Linked DNA regions of Homo sapiens. The protein of the gene in region 1 interacts with the protein of each later gene in a biochemical or structural test. Each region holds a gene or a part of one and is shown on either strand. Other genes may lie near its edges. The genes, in order: MACROH2A1, RNF168 and TRIM59.

Region 1 (7,527 bases):
AAAAGAGGTAATACAGTCCTCTTCCTTCCTACAAACTCTCTAGGATGGTTTCCCATGGCCCCTTTGTTATTCCTCATTAAGGGTAACTACTCACCTGTACTTATCTTAAACAAGGGCATTAACTGCCTCAGCTTCCTGACTAGATGCAGTTACAGGCCCGCATACCACGCCCAGCTAATTTTTGTATTTTTAGTAGAGATGGGGTTTCACCATGTTAGCCAGGCTGGTCTCAAACTCCTGACCTCAAGGGATTTGCCCACCTTGGCCTGACAGAGTGCTGGGGTAATAGGCGTGGGCCACTGCGCCTGGCCAATCTTTAAAAATATTCATAACATCTTTATAATAGAGTTGGAAACAGCCTGAAAGAAGAAAAAATAAGGAGTTGGTTAAATTAACGATGGCCAAGCTTGTGGATATTGTGAAGCAGTAGTTCTCAAAATGTAGTCTGCAGTCCCCCGAAGGTCACTGAGACCCTTCCTGGAGGTACAAAAAGTCACAACTATTTTCATGTTAACATTAAGACATTATTTGACTTTTCCCTGTGTTGATCTTTGCACAAATGGTGCAAGAACAGTAGTGGATAAAACTGCTGGCGACTTACCACAAATCAGCAATGGCATCATCCCATACTCATCATCATTTTATTATTTATTATGAAGCACTCACAGCCAAAAAAAAAAAAAAAAAAAAAAAAAGAGAGCCAGTTTAACTTAAGAATGTCCTGATGAAACAGTAAAAAGCATTAATTTTATTAAATCTGACCCTTTGGAACACATTTTAAAATATTCCACGTGACCAAATGGGAAGTACGCATACAGCATTTCTACTAGGATGGTCATCTTGAGGAGAAGCACGTGTGCAATTGAGCTGTGAGTTAAACTAGCTGCTTTTCTCATGGAACACTAGCTTTTCTTGAAACAAGGGCTGACAGCAAGGCTGCATTACACTTTCATGGCCCTAGGCACTTTTACCTTCATGAGTCCCTTCTTCTATAAAACAATAGAAAAAAAATTTTACAACCGTGTTCGTAGAAAGACAAATATATTAACATTATATATTAAAATATTTTCTTCAATATAAAAGAACTAACTTTCATTTTCTTCTGATTTTAAAAGAAATTAAGACATTTTCGTGGGCCCATAAAGTCCTGGGGGCCTGAGTACTGTTTCTAATGGAGAAGCTACACCTGACAGACAAACTATGGGTATTCAGAATTGGGTGTACGTAGGGCTGAATACTCCACGAGGCACAGTTTTAATATACAATATTAATTTATTTGTCTTTATACCAGTGCAGTTGTCTTTTTAGTGGAGGAAAGGGCCCATGCAGGCAAAAATGCCTATGGCCCATGAAAGTCATAATGTGGTCCTTTGTTTGTGGTAGACATTTTCTTGAAAATGAATGAAATGAACCTGTCATTTCTAGGAAAATCACTGTGACATTATGTTGTCAGTGATAAACTTGAGCTTTCAAGCAGAAATTACAATTTTGGGAAACTCGTATCTGCCACCAAGAGCTTGACAACTTCCCAATACTCAAAAACCTTCAGATGAGATCAGTGGTGCTATTAATAGATGTGATTTTCTAATATTGTACAATGAAATGTGTTTACATTTGTAAGATCCGTATAAATCAGTGAACTGATATTTCCCAAATGATCAATGTATGATTTTACCAAATTATGCATAGCTAAAGGACCCAGTCAAGATATAAAATAGGCCAATGGATTTTAATGTATTAACTGAGTTCAAAAGTTTATTGATTTTTTTTTTCAGGTTCTACATTGCACTTAACCTTTAAGAAACGACTCCTTGCATTTTGGTGTGGTATGAAAAAAGAACATCTGTAATTATCTGAAAAGGCGATTAAAATCCTCTATTCTTTCCCATATACATATCTACATAAGGCTGAATTTTCTTCACATACTTCAAACAAAACAACATATAGTGACCGACTGAATGCAGGAGGAGGCATGAAACCAGCTATCTTCTATTACACCAGACATTCAAGAGCCGTGCAAAACTGTAAAACAATGCCACTCTTCCCACTAATTATTTTTGTTTGGAAAGTATAATTATTTTTCTAAAATACATTATTTATGTAATATAATTTCTTTCCATGTTAACATTTTTAAAATAAATTAATAAATATTTACTTTTTCTCAGTTTTTATTTCTAATAAAGCAAATATTGATAGATGTAACCTATAAAACAAAAGCTCTTCAGGGTTCTCAGTAATTTTTAAGAGGGTCAAGGGAAACCCAAACAGTTCCAGTAATGTTATTGTAGAACAACTACCCAGTAAAATGCTCATAAAGAACCATTAAGTTTAAAGTGCAGGTGACAATCACTAAATAGAGTAGAAACTCTGTATGTTTAATGTTAAGTGGATATAGATAAAAAGGCTGGAATGGGAGCAGGCTGTTCTCTCCTAGCAATGAATGTAGAGTGAGTTTTATTTTTTGAGCATTTTTATTTTTCATGTTTTCAGAATGAGCATAGCTTTGTCATTGGAAAAAAATAAAAAACCTTTAACAGAAGAAGAAGCAATAGCAGCAGCAGCAGCTGGTACCCCTCTCTGAGCCAGATTAGGGGAGGAGACAGGTCACCGAAGTGGAAGAACAGGACACACAAAGCGCAGGAGGAGAGAGGGGAGAGAAGGTGGAGGCTTCTGGAGAAGGATGAGGTCAGAGCTGCTGCACTGAACAGCTCCAGAGGACAAAGGTCCTAGTGTGTTCTATGAGAATGGCACGCTGTAGAGGGGCATGGAGGTGGGGCCGCCCCAAGATCAGCTCTTGGAGGAGTGTAGACTTTAATTCCACCTGGTGGTCCCTACAGAACGGAGAGTCCTTGCCCAAAGGCACAGAGAAGGATGGAACAACAATGTGGTGTGTGGGGGAGGGTCTCTGCACCTTTCCTGACATCTTTTCTTCGGGAGATCCTCATAGAACCATAATGCTTTGTTTTGGGACCAGAAGCATCATAAGCATCATCATTTTTCCAGCTTCATCTCCTGTTACTTTCCCCTTCACCCATTCTACTCCAACCTCACACTCGCTCTGTCTTGACTATTTTGGACACACTCCTACCCCAGCCTTTGCACTTGCTATTCCTCATGCTCGGCGCAGTTCTTCCCCAGACATCCACACGGCTTGCTCCCTCAATTTCTTCAGGCTTTAAATGTTACTTTCTCATAGAGGCCTTCTCTTGTATTTGAGCCTCACTCTTATCTCACACTTCCTATTCCCCTTCTCCGCCTTATTTTTCTCCACCCCATGGAGACCCTCTGACACATTCTCCCGTTTGTCTGTCTTTCCCCCACGAGACTGCAAACTACAGGAGGGCAGAGATTTCTGCCTGTTCTCTTGGCTGTTTCATATCCAGCACCCAAATCGATGTATGACACAAAATACGTTCTCAGTACTTAATCGAATTAACGAATGCATGAATGGCAGGTATTGGACATTGTTTTGCAAACTCTTAAAGTAAGGTGTAAAGCATCCCGGTGAGGTGGAGGTTACTGCCGCTGCGATTCCCGCGCAGCCTGAGGACTGGGGGGTGGGGGTGGGGGTCTCTAATTACCTCCATAATCCCCAGTAGCGGCACTTTAAACTTCACATCAACCCTGAGGGATGTGTATTATTATCCAAATTTAGTTCACAGCTGGATGGAGAAGTGGCTTCCGGCTCCACACTTTGGAGGGAGGGGAGTAGAGGGCAGGCCCCCATTTAAGTACCCGGGATGGGGCACCAATGCCTTCAGGCGGTAAACCAATTTAGGAAGACGTGGCGGGCTTTGTGGCGGCTCCTCCTCTTTCGGCCTGTCCGCAGTTTTTAAAAAACGTGTGTGATGATAAGGAATCACTGTCTACATTAGTAATTCCCAACTTGGGTCCGAAAGTGAACTTTTGCTGAAGCGAAGTAGCTAACCGCTTCCATGTGCAAGGCAGGTTCCAGACTTCGGGGTGAGGAGGATTAACTGAAGGACCCCAGGGGAACCGGGTGCGCAGTAATTGATCTTGGGGCAGACCAGGGCTTGGCGGTGGCCTGTATCTAAAGACAGCGGGGTCTCTGAGGCGGGGCAGGGGGGAGTTGGCATTGACTGGGGAGGGAAGAGCGATCGCTGGTAACAGCCATTGTGCCTTCCCACTGGGTTAGTGGGAAGGTTCCTAAAGATGCCGTGGCAGCGACAGTCCCGTGCTCAGAGCCAGGCACACAGTAGGCGTTCACTCGAGACGCAGAGTCTGGGACGCGCCCTGAAGAAGCTCCTCTCCAGGGGCCTGGCCCTTCCCAAGGACTGGGCTCTGGGCGTCCCCGGGGTCATGGGTCAGACCTCGCGTCCGGGGTGCGGGCTGGTGCCTGGGCGCAGAGCGGCCGGCGTCAACGGGTAGGGCGCGGGCCCGGGGTCAAGGCCGGGGCGCCGGGCGGCACGGGCGCGGAGGCCGGACGCTCGGGGCCGCGAAGGGATGTGACGAGCGGCGCGCTGTGCATTGTGGGAAGCCGGCCGCGAGGACTGGTTCCAGTTCACTCGGCAGCGGCGCCGGGCGGAGGGGGAGAGCGCGGGCCGCGCGGGCGGGAAGCGAAGAGGCGGGCGGGCCAGCGAGGAGCGCGGAGAGAAAAGGCGCGAGCGGCCAGGAGGGCTCAGGCCGAGACACCTTGCAGCTGCCGCCGCCGCCACCGAGCCGCCGCGTAAGTGCCGCGCGGGCCCCCTTGCCGCACTCCCTGTCCCCGCCGCTCGGGTCCGGCCGCGGGTGCCCGGGAGCGGCCCGGCCTGGCGCGCACCGGTGTGGTGCGGGCCGGGCTCGGGCCGCCGGGTTCGGTGTGGCCCACGCCGGGTCCTCGCGCGTGCACTACGTCCTCCCAGGCCTTGTCGGGCCGCGCGGGATTCCCTTTGGTTTTGTTCAAAAAAGAAACCTGGAAACCAACTTCTCTTCGAAACGCATCCCCCTGCCCGCGCCTGGGCGCTTTTGTGGGAAAAAAGCGGTGCTGGCGCCTACCCTGGCGACCCTTCCTGGGGCGGGCTCACGGGCCAGGCCCGAGGCCGCAGGAGGCCCCGCGGCGCTGGCTAGGCAGTCTGGGCCTGGGCACCCGGGAGCTGCTGTGAGCAGAGTTGTACTTGGTGAGGCCCCCGCCGGCCCGCGAGTTGCCGGCCCCGGCACAATAAGTCGGGCCCGAGCCCCGGGGGGCCGAGGTGTAGGCGTCTGGCTCGCTATCTGCAGGGAGGGGAAGGCGGGGGCTACTCGCGGGATTGAAGCCGGGCTGGTGCGGGGGACCGGGTTGGGGAGTGGTCCAAGGATGGGCTGGAGAGGGGCCACGGGAACCCCCGCTGCTCCCGATTGTCTCGGTATCAGCCTTTTGTTTGCTTTGTGGTAGGAAGGGTTTGCTTTTTTTAAAAGGTAACTCCGGAAGGCTGTAGGCTTCCCCGGGTGGAGAAGGCCAGCAGGAAAGAGCCTCGCTGGGGGTGGGGTGGAGTGGGGAGGTGAGTGTGCAGGATGCTGCTGGCAGTGTCACCTGACAACAGGTGTGCGACATGGCGCTCCCTACCCCCACTCCTGCAGGGGCCACAGATCACTCAAGGAGTTGGTCAGTACATTGCTTGAAAGGTTCTTTTAGACAAGATGTTAGGGGAAATGTTTCTGAGTTTCAAAGTGAGAGACTTCTGTACAAACAACTGGGACAAACCTTGAATTCAACAATTACAATGACTATAAAGGCCTTGTAAGATTTTAATGACCCAGTAAACAGCACATAAGAATAGACAATTAGAGGGGGCACTCCTGCTAGCTTCCCTCTTTTCTTCCACCTTTGTGGTTTGAGGTTTTACCGTTAAAGTAGGGGGTAAGGGAAGTGTTTTGTTCCAAAGCTCCCTGCTCCAGGGAGTCGGGCATTTTTTAACAGTCTTAGGTTTGAATGGGAGACTCGAGTTGTAAATTAGGTGGAATTCACCTACTGCAGGCCACCTTTAGGCTACTAGCCTGTTGTCAGAGGTGTTAACTCTGAAATGGACACCTCTTGCCTGCAACTGGAATTAATACCCATTGTACACATTTAACTAGAGTTGGGCAGCAGCATCTCAGTCTTGCACAAGAGACTCTCTGATGAGGATGAGTATGTTTTCAAACTTATTTTTTCTTAAACACAACAAAACTCTTGAAAGACTTCAAATTCTTCCCCCTTCTAGTTTTACAAGGAGAGAGAAATCTTTCCAGTCTGTTCTTTGGCTTCGATCTGTCACCATTGTTAATGCTGATCCCTAGATAAGGCATTAAGAGGGTTGTCTAAATGAAAATTGTTTGAGGCAGGCCTTTAGAAGGAGGCATAATTTAACTCACATTTTATTAAACTTTAAGAATTGTCTGGAACTTCACATGTGACATTCTAGTATACAACCATGCCACTGGTTTAGTTTTTACCAAATGGGCCAGTGTCAGGGAGTGACACATCTCCATCTGATGTTTCTTCTGGTCCCTGAGAGAGGCGAACTTGAGGAGCGCCTCGCATTCCTTCCCCACTGAGAAGCTCAGAGGGCATGTGTTCTGGGACCTGCCTTCAGAGCTAATGCGGCCCCAAGTCACCTAAAGGAGATTTATTTAAATAAAAGCATAAACTGAAAACCTCAAGCCGAAGAACCCAACAAGACTCTATATGTGTTGTTCATCAGAACTGCAACAGCCTCTGGTTTTATTTGAGTGTCCCCAAGGATTTGTGACAGCCTTTTCAGAGCCCCATTCCTAGAACATGGGCTGGGAAGGGGCAGGAGTGATTGGGGCCCAGATCTCTGTGGGTCCTTCCCATATTCTGTAGGTTTAGAGGTCTTTTGGGCCCTGCCTCAGTGCTTACAAGTGAGCCTGAGTGAGTCAACTCTTCATTCCAAAGAGTTGTATAGCTTGTTTGCTTGGACCAAACCTGTCAGGTCAGTGTCTCAGAGTCTTTCCATAAAGATTTCCTGAGAATCAGCTCCTGTTCAGGCACTGGGGACACAGCCGTGATTAAGAAATGCCTAGCCCCTACCTTGGGGGAGCTGACTTTGGGAGAAGGCAGGCAAGTAGCTGTTGTAAAATCAGTGCAAAAGGCCCCACGTAGCCCCCCAGCAGGTACAGTAACCTAGCCAGGAGTGAGCCCTTATCTGGCTTGGAAAGGTCAAGCAGGAGATGGCTGGGCAAAGGAGGGCAGATGGGGACAAGTGTTTGAGGCCTGGGGAACCCCATGTGTGCATCTTAGAAGAAAAGAACAGAGGTCATGTGGGGAACTGCCAGAGGCTCGGGATGGCTGAGTCCTGGTGCGGAGTCAGGTGAGGCTTCAGGGAGGGACAAACAGGACAAATCACAAAGGATTCTGGTCAGACCCACACTTTATCCTAAGAGCAACTGAAGGGTTTTGAGCAGGAGAGAGACAGGATCAGGTGTTCTTTTTATTCTTATTGGGAACACGTCTACTCGGCAAATAATGAGTGGATTCTACATGCTAAGCCTTATCAGAGTCCTGTCCTGTGAAGCCCACACTTTAACTTTTCTCTAAATAGCCTTCCG
Region 2 (4,663 bases), on another chromosome or scaffold:
GAACAAACTTATGAGTATTAGCATAAGATTATGCATCTCTTCACCTAATAGTTCAGAACCGGTTATAGTTACTTTCTTGTGAATGATGTTTCTTGGGAACATACGCATTTCTAGTTCTCCTATTGAGGACTTTTCTTTTTTTTCTTTTTTTTTTTTTTTTGAGACGGAGTCTCCAGTCTGTCACCCAGGCTGGAGTGCAGTGGCACAATCTTGGCTCACTGCAACTTCCGCCTCCTGGGTTCAAGCAATTCTCTGTCTCAGCCTCCCGAATAGTTGGGATTACAGGCACACGCCACCACACCCGGCTAATTTTTGTATTTTTAGTAGAGACGGCGTTTCCCCATGTTGGCCAGGCTGGTTTCAAACTCCTGACTTCAGGTGATCTGCCTGCCTCGGCCTCCCAAAGTGCTGGGATTACAGGTGTGAGCCACCATGCACGGCCGAGTTATTGGTCTTTTCTTAATGAACTGGAGGATACTTTACATAAAGGAAATTAGCTCTTTGTGATGAACTGCAACTATTTCTTCCCAAGTTTGCCACAGCTTCCAATTTCCCTTGATGGTAGTTTTTGTTATGCAGAACTTTTAATTTTCATGTAGCTGATTTTTACATATTTTTAAGTTGTGGTAAAATACACATAATAATCCATTTTTATTTTTAGTATTTTATTTTTCAGATTCTCAGCCTCTGCACAGCCTTAGTACTCCCTGAGAAATTCAGTGTTTGCATATCCTTTCCACAAAAATGAGAGGAAAAAGGACCAGTACCTGCTAGTGACTGATACATTTATTAGTTTCTAACAAAAAGGCATACATGGTAGGCAGAGTAGAAATACTAACAGAAATTAGTTTATCTTGAAACCAATTTTAGTCAGGAAGACTTCTTCACAGAGAATGAGCTGAATATATAAATCCCAAATATATCACACCATATATGTGATATATTTACACCTAAATATATCACACCCTCCTTTTTGGTCACAGACTATTCCAGGAAGATTAAATAGATAACGTTTAATTTGAGGCATTCAAGAATGTCCACCCTAAAACTGAAAGTGAAATTGCTCTTAGAGAAAAATTGGTTTGATGAGAAGATTGATCTTAGCCTGTCTCAGACAAATTTGGTTTATTTATTTTTACTTAACGACCCATGTGATAGTATAGTTGCAAGCTATACTTCATTTAACTACAATCATTACTCAGAGGACAATCACCTTAAGAGGCAAATTAAGTTTTAAATTAGCACAGAATTTATAATTACCCAATCAGCATTGACATAGATGCCATCAGGTATGCAAAGATTAACAAAATTCTATTACCAACCTTAGAGGAAAAAAACTTAATGACATACAGAAATACTGGCAAATTTAAGCTAGAATTAGCTCCAGGACATTTTATCTTATTTTCACATTAAAAGAATAGATTACTAGATATCAGCAGAAATGCTGTTAAAGCTATTTTTTACTAATAGTTGTTCATATTAATGAAACAAAAGATCAATAGTCTCTGAGCTAAATTTCACAAAATGAAATCAGTGTCTTCTGATTTAACTTTCAGGAGTAAGAAAGGGCAAAACCCAAGCACCATACTTTCTATTTCTGTTCATAAACTCAAATAAAAGCAGTATCAACACAAATGATCATATAAGAAAACACGTGGTTATGTTTCAGGTTCCACAACATAAGACACTGTGAGGTAACTCTCCTGTAATACATTCCCATTTTTTTCTGGAATAGCAGATGCATAGAAATGCAGGTTTCCAAAAATTCACCCAATTTAGTAACTAATTTTGATTCTGATGCCTGATAGTAGGGTGTGAAAAGCTGTAAAACCCAAATGTTTCCTGTGTTCTTTCACAAGGACAAGGGAAGAGGATGCTCTGCCAAACTGCCCCTGCTGCGTCATAGTGGACCAGTTTCAATGATCCAGACTGTCAGTCACCCCATCCAGCCTCATCCTCATCTGGACCCATTTCTCACCACCCAATCAGTTTCAATGATCCAGACTGTCAGTCACCCCATCCAGCCTCATCCTCATCTGGACCCATTTCTCACCACCCAATCAGTTTCAATGATCCAGACTGTCAGTCACCCCATCCAGCCACATCCTCATCTGGACCAGTTTCTGACCACCCAATCAGTTTCAATGATCCAGACTGTCAGTCACCCCATCCAGCCACATCCTCATCTGGACCAGTTTCTGACCACCCAATCAGTTTCAATGATCCAAACTGTCAGTCACCCCACCCAGCCTCATCTGGACCAGTTTCTGACGACCCAATCAGTTTCAATGATCCAGACTGTCAGTCACCCCATCCAGCCTCATCCTCATCTGGACCCGTTTCTGACCAACCACCCAATCAGTTTCAATGATCCAGACTGTCAGTCACCCCATCCAGCCTCAGCCTCATCCTCATCTGGACCCGTTTCTGACCAACCACCCAATCAGTTTCAATGATCCAGACTGTCAGTCACCCCATCCAGCCTCAGCCTCATCCTCGTCTGGACCCGTTTCTGACGACCTAATCAGTTTCAATGATCCAGACTGTCAGTCACCCCATCCAGCCTCATCTGGACCAGTTTCCGACGACCCAATCTGTTTCAATGATCTGGACTGTCAGTCACCCCATCCAGCCTCATCCCAGCTCTTAACTCCTTCTGCATAGTTCAGTTTCCTTTCTGGCAACTAATTCCCAATTTCCTAGAAAACCCTGATTTTCTGATTTAACACTGATTCGAATCCACTTTAAACCAAAGGAAACAGGCCGGGCGTGGTGGCTCACGCCTATAATCCCAGCACTCTGGGAGGCCGAAGCAGGTGGATCACCTGAGGACAGGAGTTCAAGACCAGCCTGGCCAACATGGTGAAATCCCATCTCTACTAAAAGTACAAAAAAAAAAAAAAATTAGCTGGGTAGCTGGGTGTAGTGGCACATGCCTATGATCCCAGCTACTCGGGAGGCTGAGGCAGAAGAATCGCTTGAACTCGGGAGGCGGAGGTTGCAGTGAGCTGAGATCGCGCCATTGCACACCAGCCTGCGTGACAGAGCAAGACTCTGTCTCCAAAAAAAAAAAAAAAAAAAAAAAAAAAAAAAAATCTGGGATTTCCCACATATGAATATGAATCCAAATTTTGAAACTCCGTCTAAAAAAAAAAAACAAACACCAAAGGAAATGCTACAATGCTGAAAATTGAATTAAATTGGAGATGGAAATTAGATTACTTTAGGAAAACCTTTTGAGTACTCTGTAAACATTGGACAATAGCAAGAAAATGGATTTTAAACCCTGCATGGGTTCCTTAATCACTCAGAATAGTATAATCTTGCTTTGATTACCAGTCACGACAAAAAGGTGAGCAAAGGCCATAAAACATGCAGTTTTTGGAAAGACAATGGCACTTGAAGATTTCCTGGAGTTGGCCAAAGCTTAAGATATCTCTAAGAATTGTAAAGCTTAATACACATCTGTTATTAAGAAGGGAAACGACAGGGGACCCCTGCTTACCGCTGAGCTGTGCAGAAGCTCATGTGTCTATGCAGTCCTTACAATCACACAGACCTTCATTAAGGACAATGAGTGTGCCTAGAGAGCAGCATGAATGACACATGGATGAAGATTCCATGATAGGAAAGAGCTTCACATTCCAGCTTTACTAGATCACAAAGCACTCCCTTTACCAGGCCTTACTTTGTGCATCTCTGAAACATCTGAAAAACACTTTTCTGTGAAATGCTAGGCTGTAGGGAGTGAGCACTTTTGGATACCTTACAGTGATCTCTAGTAGAATTTGGCATCTTTCTTCTATTAACTGACTGCTTCAACTGCATCTTTAAAGACACTTGCCTATTTTTGTCCCTTGAGCCTCTCTCTGGTGTTGGATGCTTTGTGTGAGTTTGCCTTTTGAAGTTCCCATCTTTGGGATTCTTCCTCTGTCCATTTAGCACTTTGTCTGGAGGGGAGGATGTAGCGCGTAAGTGATACTCATCTGGGGATCCTTTTTGCCGGTTTGGCACCATTTGCTCTTTATCCACCTCCTTCTGAAGTTGTAATGCCAATAACCTGTCCTGTTCTTCTTGTTTATGTCTCTCAAACAGTAGATGCTCCAAATCTATCAGTTTTTGGGTAAAGTTTATTTCTGTTTCCTCTTGATCTGGGGAAGATTCGGGGGACACTTTTCTTCTTTTTGCAGAAAAGCATGGATCCTTGACTGCTTCAAAGGAAGATTCTTGGTTTTTTCTTTTGGAAATCTCCTTACTGATCAGTAGGCACGACTCTTCATTTTCTGTCTCACCTGTGTTGTTTCCATTTGTCTGTGTCACCCCTGATGTGGGGGCGCACCCACTTTCTGTTCTGCCACAAGGCATAACTGCAGTTTCTTTCGAGTAGGGAACTCTGGTTTTAGGTCGCTCGTGACTTAAGACACATAACTCTTTCCCATGATTGCTTGGTCTTGTTTTGACGTTTCCTTCATGGTACCATTCGGCACCACAGGCACATAACCATGGCATAGGGGACTCTATTGAAGAATCTGCACCTTGTTCTCCAACTCCAAGGGATATCTGTGGAGAAAGTGTCGGCATATCTTCTATTTCTGTGTCTTGCCCTGTTGGGCTTTTCCTATCACTACTGTCAATGTCCTGTAGAAAACAGAAAAAGACTGAG
Region 3 (7,000 bases), on another chromosome or scaffold:
GAGAATCTAATGCTGACACTGGCAGGAGGCGGAGCTCAGGTGGGCTCGAGGCGGAGCTCAGGTGGGCTTGCCCGCCACCATGGTGGGGGCGCAGGGTGGGTAGGAAGGGTTGAGGACCCCTGCATTAAATGATAACTCTACATCTTCCCTGCTCTCAAGCCCTGGCAACTACCATTCTACTTTCTGTCTTTGAGGACTGCTTATTGGTTTTGATATTATATATATTATATGCTTTTTTCACATATAATGTGAATGTAAATTTTTTTTCCATTGAACTAATTGACTGAATTATATTAATAGATTTTTCGTTATTGAATTAACTTTGTATTTCTGGAAAGAACCTTATTTAGTCATGGTACAGTGTTTTTTTTAATGTACTCCTGTGTTTGTTTTTGCTAACATTGTATTTAGAATTTTACATCAGTGTCCATTTTTGAAATTAGTCCATTTTTAGTTTGTATTGTCTCAGGTTTTGGAATCATGTTATACTGTCTTCAAAATATTTAGCAAACTTTTCATATTTGTATTCTGGAACAGTTGAGTAGGGCCTAGTCCACACTCAAGGGAGAGGAGATTTCAAGAGTATCCAGAAAGTGTAGGTCATTGGGGGCCATTTTAGAGGCTACCTATCACAGATAGCTAATGGCTTGTTTATTTACTTAAAGAACCAATTCTTAGACTGGTCATGGTGGCTCACAGCTGTAATCTCAGCACTTTGGGAGGCTGAGGGGGGAAGGATGTCTTGAGGCTAGGGGTTTGAGACCAGCCTGGGCAACGTAGTGAGACCCTATCTCTACAAAGCATAAAAACATTAGGCATGTGTGTTAACATGCACCTATCAGCTACTTGGGAGGCTGAGCTGGGAGGATTGTTTGAGCCTGGGAAGTTGAGGCTGCAGTGAGCCATGGTCACACCACTGCATTCCAGCCCTGGTGACAGAGCAAGACTCAGTCTCAAAAAGAGCCATCTCTTGGGTTTATCAGTTCTAGCAATTTTTTTTTTTTTTTTTTTTTGAGACAGAGTCTTGCTCTGTCACCCAGACTGGAGTGCAGTGGCATGATCTCAGCTCACTGCAATCTCCGCCTCCCAGGTTTAAGCGATTCTCCTGCCTCAGCCTCCCGAGTAGCTGGGATTATAGGCGTCTGTCACCCTGCCCAGCTAATTTTTGTATTTTTAGTAGAGATGGGGTTTTGTCATGTTGGCTAGGCTGGTCTTGAACTCCTGACTTCAGGTGGTCCGCCTGTCTCGGCCTCCCAAGGTGCTGGGATTGCAGGTGTGAGCCACAGTGCCCAGCCAGTTCTAGCAATTTAAGTTTTCTAGTTCATTATCATCTTCCATTTATCTTTATTCTTTTTTTATTTTTTGAGACAAAGTGTGGCTCTGTAGTCTAGGCTGGAATGCAGTGGAACGACCGTGGCTCATGGCTCATTGCAGCCTGGACCTCCCAGGCTCAAGCAATCCTCCCTCCTCAGCCTCCTGAGTAGCTGGGACTAACAGGCGTGCGCCACCATACTTAGCTAAGTTTTTTATTTTTTGTAGAGATGGGGTTTCACTGTGTTGCCAGGGCTGGTCTCGAATTGCTGGGCTCAAGTGATCCTCCCACCTTGGCCTTCCACAGTGCTGGGATTACAGGTATGAGCCATTACACCAGGCCAATTTTTATTCTTTTTTTTCCACTTTTCCTCTTTTTTTTTTTTAGTTGAATTATTTTATATTCCTTTTGGTTTGGTAAGTAAAGTGTATGGTGTCAGCTCTGCCCATGTAATTTTTTTTTAGCTCTGTAGATTTTACTGAAGAGTATTTCTGTTGTTTCACATGAATAAATTATGTCGTGGCTGTGTACAGAATTCTCAGCTCATATCCCTTTCCTTCTAGTCTTTGTGGACATTGCTACATTCTGTTCTAGCATTCCTTGTTGCTGGTGATGTTCTGGTTATTTCCTGCTGTGTAACAAACATCTGAAAGCTTGGCTGGCCAGATATTCAAGATGTCTTTTTCACTCATGTGTCTGGAAACTCCTTGCCCTTCTATTTGGCCTGTCTCTTCAGCAAAGTAGCCTGGACTTCTTACATAGCAGTTTGTGGCTCCGAGGCAGCAACCTGCCAAACTAGTTAAGGGCTATACCTAGAACTCACCACATCACTTATACTGTATCCTATTGGTCAGAACAGTCACATGGCCCACACATATTCTAATGGGGGAGAATAGATTTCATCTCCATGTGCAGGGAGTAGCAGCAAAGTCACATTATAGGACAGCTCATGTGGGAGATAATTATTGTGGCCATTCCAATTTTGGAAATTCCAGTCTCCCAGAGGAGGATTCTGAGACCTTTGGTTTAGTTTTCCTTTTTTCATCCTTCTTTTCTGTGTGGATACTTGTAGAATTGTTCTTATTTCTTTAAAATTGTATTATATTTTTAATTGCTTAATAGTTAAAAGCGAAACCATGATTTATAATGAAAAACAGATTCTTTCCCTCTAGAAGCCATCACTTTTATCTGCTTTAACATTTCTTTTGGTATTTTCTTTTATATTTCTAGATATTTATTTTTTGTGGGTTATTTTTTAAGTATGTATTGACTTTCTTATAAGGAAAAATTAAGATTTAGTTCTTAAACTGTTTCCTTCCCTTATTTTCCCCCTCAATATAATTTTGTTACTCTTTGGTAAAATCAGTATTTGATATTTACAATATTATGACTGTTACAGTGACAGCTGAGCCATATACTATAATATTAATATTTCCTCTCTTTTCATGATTCTATCACGTTTTTTCCCTAAATTTAGTTACCTCTCAATATGTTTCATATACATGAAGCATTTCTGTCAGTTCCATTTATTTACTTAAAGATCTGTCTTCTGCATGCCTGAAATCACAGCACTTTGGGAGGTCGAGGCAGGTGGATCATGAGGTCAGGAGATTGAGACCAACCTGGCTATCATGGTGAAACCCCATCTCTACTAAAAATACAAAAAAATTAGCTGGGCGTGGTGGCGGGCGCCTGTAGTCCTAGCTGCTCGGGAAGCTGAGGCAGGAGAATGGCATGAACCCAGGAGGCGGAGCTTGCAGTGAGAGGAGATAGCGGCCACTGCACTCCAGCCTGGGCGACAGAGCGAGACTCTGTTTCAAAAAAAAAAAGATCTGTCTTTTGGATCTTTCTTCCTCTTCTAGAGTGACTCTTCCCTAGGCTTTCACAGTTGTCCTGGACTTCATTTCGCCATTATGCTGGCGAACATTCTTGCTTTTCTTTTCTCCCTGCAGTAGCTTCTTTAGAAAGAGTTGGAAGAAGGTTGTTCATTTTTGAGATCTTATATTGTCCAACTGTCTTTATATAAAAATGGATTATTTTTTTTCTAGGTATAGAGTTTTAATTTCCATTTCAGAAGCCATTTTTTTTCCCCTGAGAATATCAAAGGCATTACTCCATTGTCTTATTGTTTCCAGTGTTACTGATGTTTTTACTGTTTGGAAACCTACATACAGCATAGCTAAATCCAAGATGTTCATCCTAGAAAATATACATAGGTTAATTTTTTGTTCTTTTTCTTCCTTTCAGAAGCCTAGACTGGTTGTGGAAAATTTCTGCTGCATAAAATTTCATATTGGTTTCTGAAAGAACTAGCCTGTAAGCATGGTAGCCACCTGTATCTTTTTTTTTTCTAAAAAAGGCAGGGTCTTGCTCTGTTGCCTAGGCTGGAGTGCAGTGGCACAGTCGTGGCTCACTGCAGCCTCAACTTCTTGGGCTCAAGTGATCCTCCTGCCTCAGCTCCCCGCGTAGCTGGGATTATAGGCGTGTATCACTGTGCCTGACTAATGTTTAATTTTTTGTAGAGAATGGGGGTCTCTTGGTGTTGCCCAGGTTGGTCTTGAACTCCTGGCTTCAAGTGATCTTCCCACCTTGGCCTCCCAAAGTGCTGGAATTACAGGTGTGAACCACTGCACCTGGCCCACCTATATAGTTTACTTCTCAGGCAGCAACCAGAGTCAGAAAGTTCCTGACCTTACAAAGTTATTTTTCAGTTCTAGTTTCTCTTGAATTTGTTGCCTAAAATTAGTTTTTAATCAATAAATCAGTGAGAAAAGGGTAGTCTGAGAATAGATTTTGACTTCTGTGAACTTCAAGTTATCCACAAATTTTTGTCTAAAAAGTATTATTAAAAATTTTACATATGATAGCAGTAACTTTGAGACCAACCACGATTTTTGCTTCCTATTTTTTTTTTTTCCTTTTTTTGAGACAGAGTCTTGCTCTGTTGCCCTGGCTGGAGTGCAGTTGCGCCATTTCATGCCTCAGCTTCCCGAGTAGCTGGGATTATAGGGATTACAGGTGTGCGCCACCATGCCTGGCTAATTTTTGTATTTTTAGTAGATACAGGGTTTCACCATGTTGGCCAGGCTGGTCTCAAACTCCTTGCCTCAAGTGATCCACCTGCTTTGGCCTGCTTCCATTTTATATAAGCTTAGGATATGCTTTACAATGTCATGAATATTCTCATTCTAAAGAAAGTTGAGCTTTTGGGCCCCTAAGTGCATTCTCAGAGTTGTTCCCTAGTTTTCTGCAAGCATAGAATAGGGGTTTGGATAGAAAAGTTAGATTCTGTTTTAGGACTAGTTTTGCTACTTAAACAATTGAATAGCTCCAGTAATATTAAATCTAGATTAAATGTACGTCGACTGCTCAAATTTTATTTCCTACAAAGTGTTATTCTGTTTATTCCTTCAATGTGAATTCTGACATCACTGAAATACTCTGAAAAACACATTTGTTTTTCTTGGGTGGTTTCTGTATGACTTCATAGCTTTCTGTAGGTGTAGGGTAAAGTTGTAAAGTCTTGCCAGCATGCACTCACTTGAATTTATCTGCAGTGAATGTCATCTTCTTTACTGTTGCTCAATTACTTTAATTTGCTGGAATGCTCTACAGTTCAAGCTTAGTCTCTGTGTGACACACTTTGGCTCATTCGGGATCTGAATATTGTCAGTTTGAATGGAGTGCTTTTTTTCTTTTTTCTTTTTTTTTTTTTTTTTTTGAGATGGAGTCTCACTCTGTTGCCCAGGCTGGTGTGCAGTGGTGTGAACTTGGCTCACTGCAAGCTCTGCCTCCCGGGTTGACGCCATTCTCCTGCCTTAGCCTCCCAAGTGGCTGGGACTACAGGCGCCCACCACCACACCTGGCTAATTTTTTTGTATTTTTAGTAGAGACGGGGTTTCACCCTGTTAGGCAGGATGGTCTCAATCACCTGACCTCATGATTCACCCACCTCGGCCTCCCAAAGTGCGGAGATTACAGGCGTGAGCCCCCGCACCTGGCCTGAATGGAGTATTTTCTGATAGATTTTCGTTTTACACCTTTTCCTAAGCAGAGATTTTGCTATTAAAAAAACAAAAAACAAAAAACCCCAAAACAAAAATCTGTATTAACACAGGTCTCTGAAAAGGCATTTGTTCATTGAAGCAGTAACAAGTGAATGCCTGCAGTGTTAAAATTTGTGCCTAAATTGCAGGAATATAACCATTGTTTAGACACAATTCCTGCCCTTATAGGAGGCCTACATTCTAATGTATACAGAAAAGTTACAAAATTCTTAAATAAAATCTTGTTAAAGTGCTATGAAGTAAAAATGCAGTGTTTAATGAGAATAACAGGGGACCTAATCTGGGGAAAAGGCAGGCTCAAGTTGAGCCTTGAAGGAAGAGTTAAGAGTTTGACAGATCGTAAAGATAAGGAGCCAAGTTTGCATTTTATTAAAAATGCAGTTAGTTACTTTTAGTTGCTGTTTTCACAGATTTTTAATCTTAAAAGTTAGTTTTATAGCATGTGATTTGGTAACCTTTATATTTTACGTGAATGGCACTTGGGTGTTTATTTTTTTTGAGACGGAGTTTCGCTCTTGTTGTCCAGATGAGTGCGGTGGTGTAATCTTGGCTCACTGCAACCGCCACCTACTGAGTTCAAGCAATTCTCCTGTCTCAGCCTCCCAAGTAGCTGGGATTACACGCATTTGACACCACACTGGGCTAATTTTGTATTTTTAGTAGAGATGGAGTTTCTCCATGTTGGTCAGGCTGGTCTCAAACTCCCAACCTCAGGTGATCCGCCCGCCTCGGCCTCCCAAAGTGCTGGGATTATATGCGTGAACCACTGCGCCTGGCCATGGCACTTGGGTTTTTAAGTTTTGCCTAAGGTACTTTCAACAGTGGTATAACTTGATTTTTCTCTATCAAGGGGTAAGCTAGTCTTTAGAATTGTGGCTGATGCATTGAGGGTAGGTATAAAGGAAAGCAGTAGGAGGTGGTAGGGTGCAAAATGGTCAGGCTTCTGTTACTGGAAATATCAGTAGTAGCTTGCCAAGAGGTCAAGTTACTTGTGTCAGAGATGGTCTCTGAACTATCGCTACGTTTCTTTTTCTGTCTCAGAGAAATACGGATCGAGAGACTTTCATGAAGGAAAGATGACTAATGGTCTTCTTTTTGTTCTTTACCATTTAGTGCTCTAGTTTTTCACTTAAAAATTAATTCACAGTTACTATAGTCAACTCTTATCTTTCAAACTGATTTTTATTATAAGAATTAATTCAAAATTTTTCTGTCTTCTAAATCTGCAAGTTAAAATTATTGCTTTAGAGAATTATACTATGCTGATCCTGGGGTTTAAGCGTTCTTGTATTCTAATTTGAGAAGCTAAAAAATTTATGGTAGTAACAGTTACTGTGGAGAAATTTGATAGCTTGCTTTAGAAACCATTATTGAGCCAACTGGGACATGTTTCCTCCTTTTGTGTTAAAGAATATACTTTTGCTAAGCCTAACTTGTTGTAATAGAAATAGTCTTGTCTACTCATTATATGTGCTTGGTTTTGATTTTATCATCTTAAATGTTAAAATGTTGCACAAAATAGTTGTAATCACTAAGTAGACTTTAACAGAACACTTTGAATTTTAGTCTTTATTATGTAGTGTATTAGTCTGTTTTCATGCTGCTGATAAAGACATACCTG

What was found.
Region 2: of the proteins of MACROH2A1 (region 1) and RNF168, one has a biochemical effect on the other in vitro, tested with the Homo sapiens proteins (one study listed by BioGRID).
Region 3: of the proteins of MACROH2A1 (region 1) and TRIM59, one has a biochemical effect on the other in vitro, tested with the Homo sapiens proteins (one study listed by BioGRID).

Annotation. Positions count from the first base shown.
Region 1 is NC_000005.10:135,396,222-135,403,748, reverse strand, and holds the start of MACROH2A1 (core histone macro-H2A.1), read left to right. Parts: upstream 1-4,517; 5' UTR 4,518-4,687; intron 4,688-7,527. UniProt on the Homo sapiens protein: Variant histone H2A which replaces conventional H2A in a subset of nucleosomes where it represses transcription. Nucleosomes wrap and compact DNA into chromatin, limiting DNA accessibility to the cellular machineries which require DNA as a template.
Region 2 is NC_000003.12:196,468,135-196,472,797, forward strand, and holds the end of RNF168 (E3 ubiquitin-protein ligase RNF168), read right to left. Parts: intron 4,639-4,663; coding exon 3,685-4,638; 3' UTR 649-3,684; downstream 1-648. UniProt on the Homo sapiens protein: E3 ubiquitin-protein ligase required for accumulation of repair proteins to sites of DNA damage. Acts with UBE2N/UBC13 to amplify the RNF8-dependent histone ubiquitination.
Region 3 is NC_000003.12:160,439,787-160,446,786, reverse strand, and holds part of TRIM59 (tripartite motif-containing protein 59), read left to right. Parts: intron 1-7,000. UniProt on the Homo sapiens protein: E3 ubiquitin ligase involved in different processes such as development and immune response. Serves as a negative regulator for innate immune signaling pathways by suppressing RLR-induced activation of IRF3/7 and NF-kappa-B via interaction with adapter ECSIT.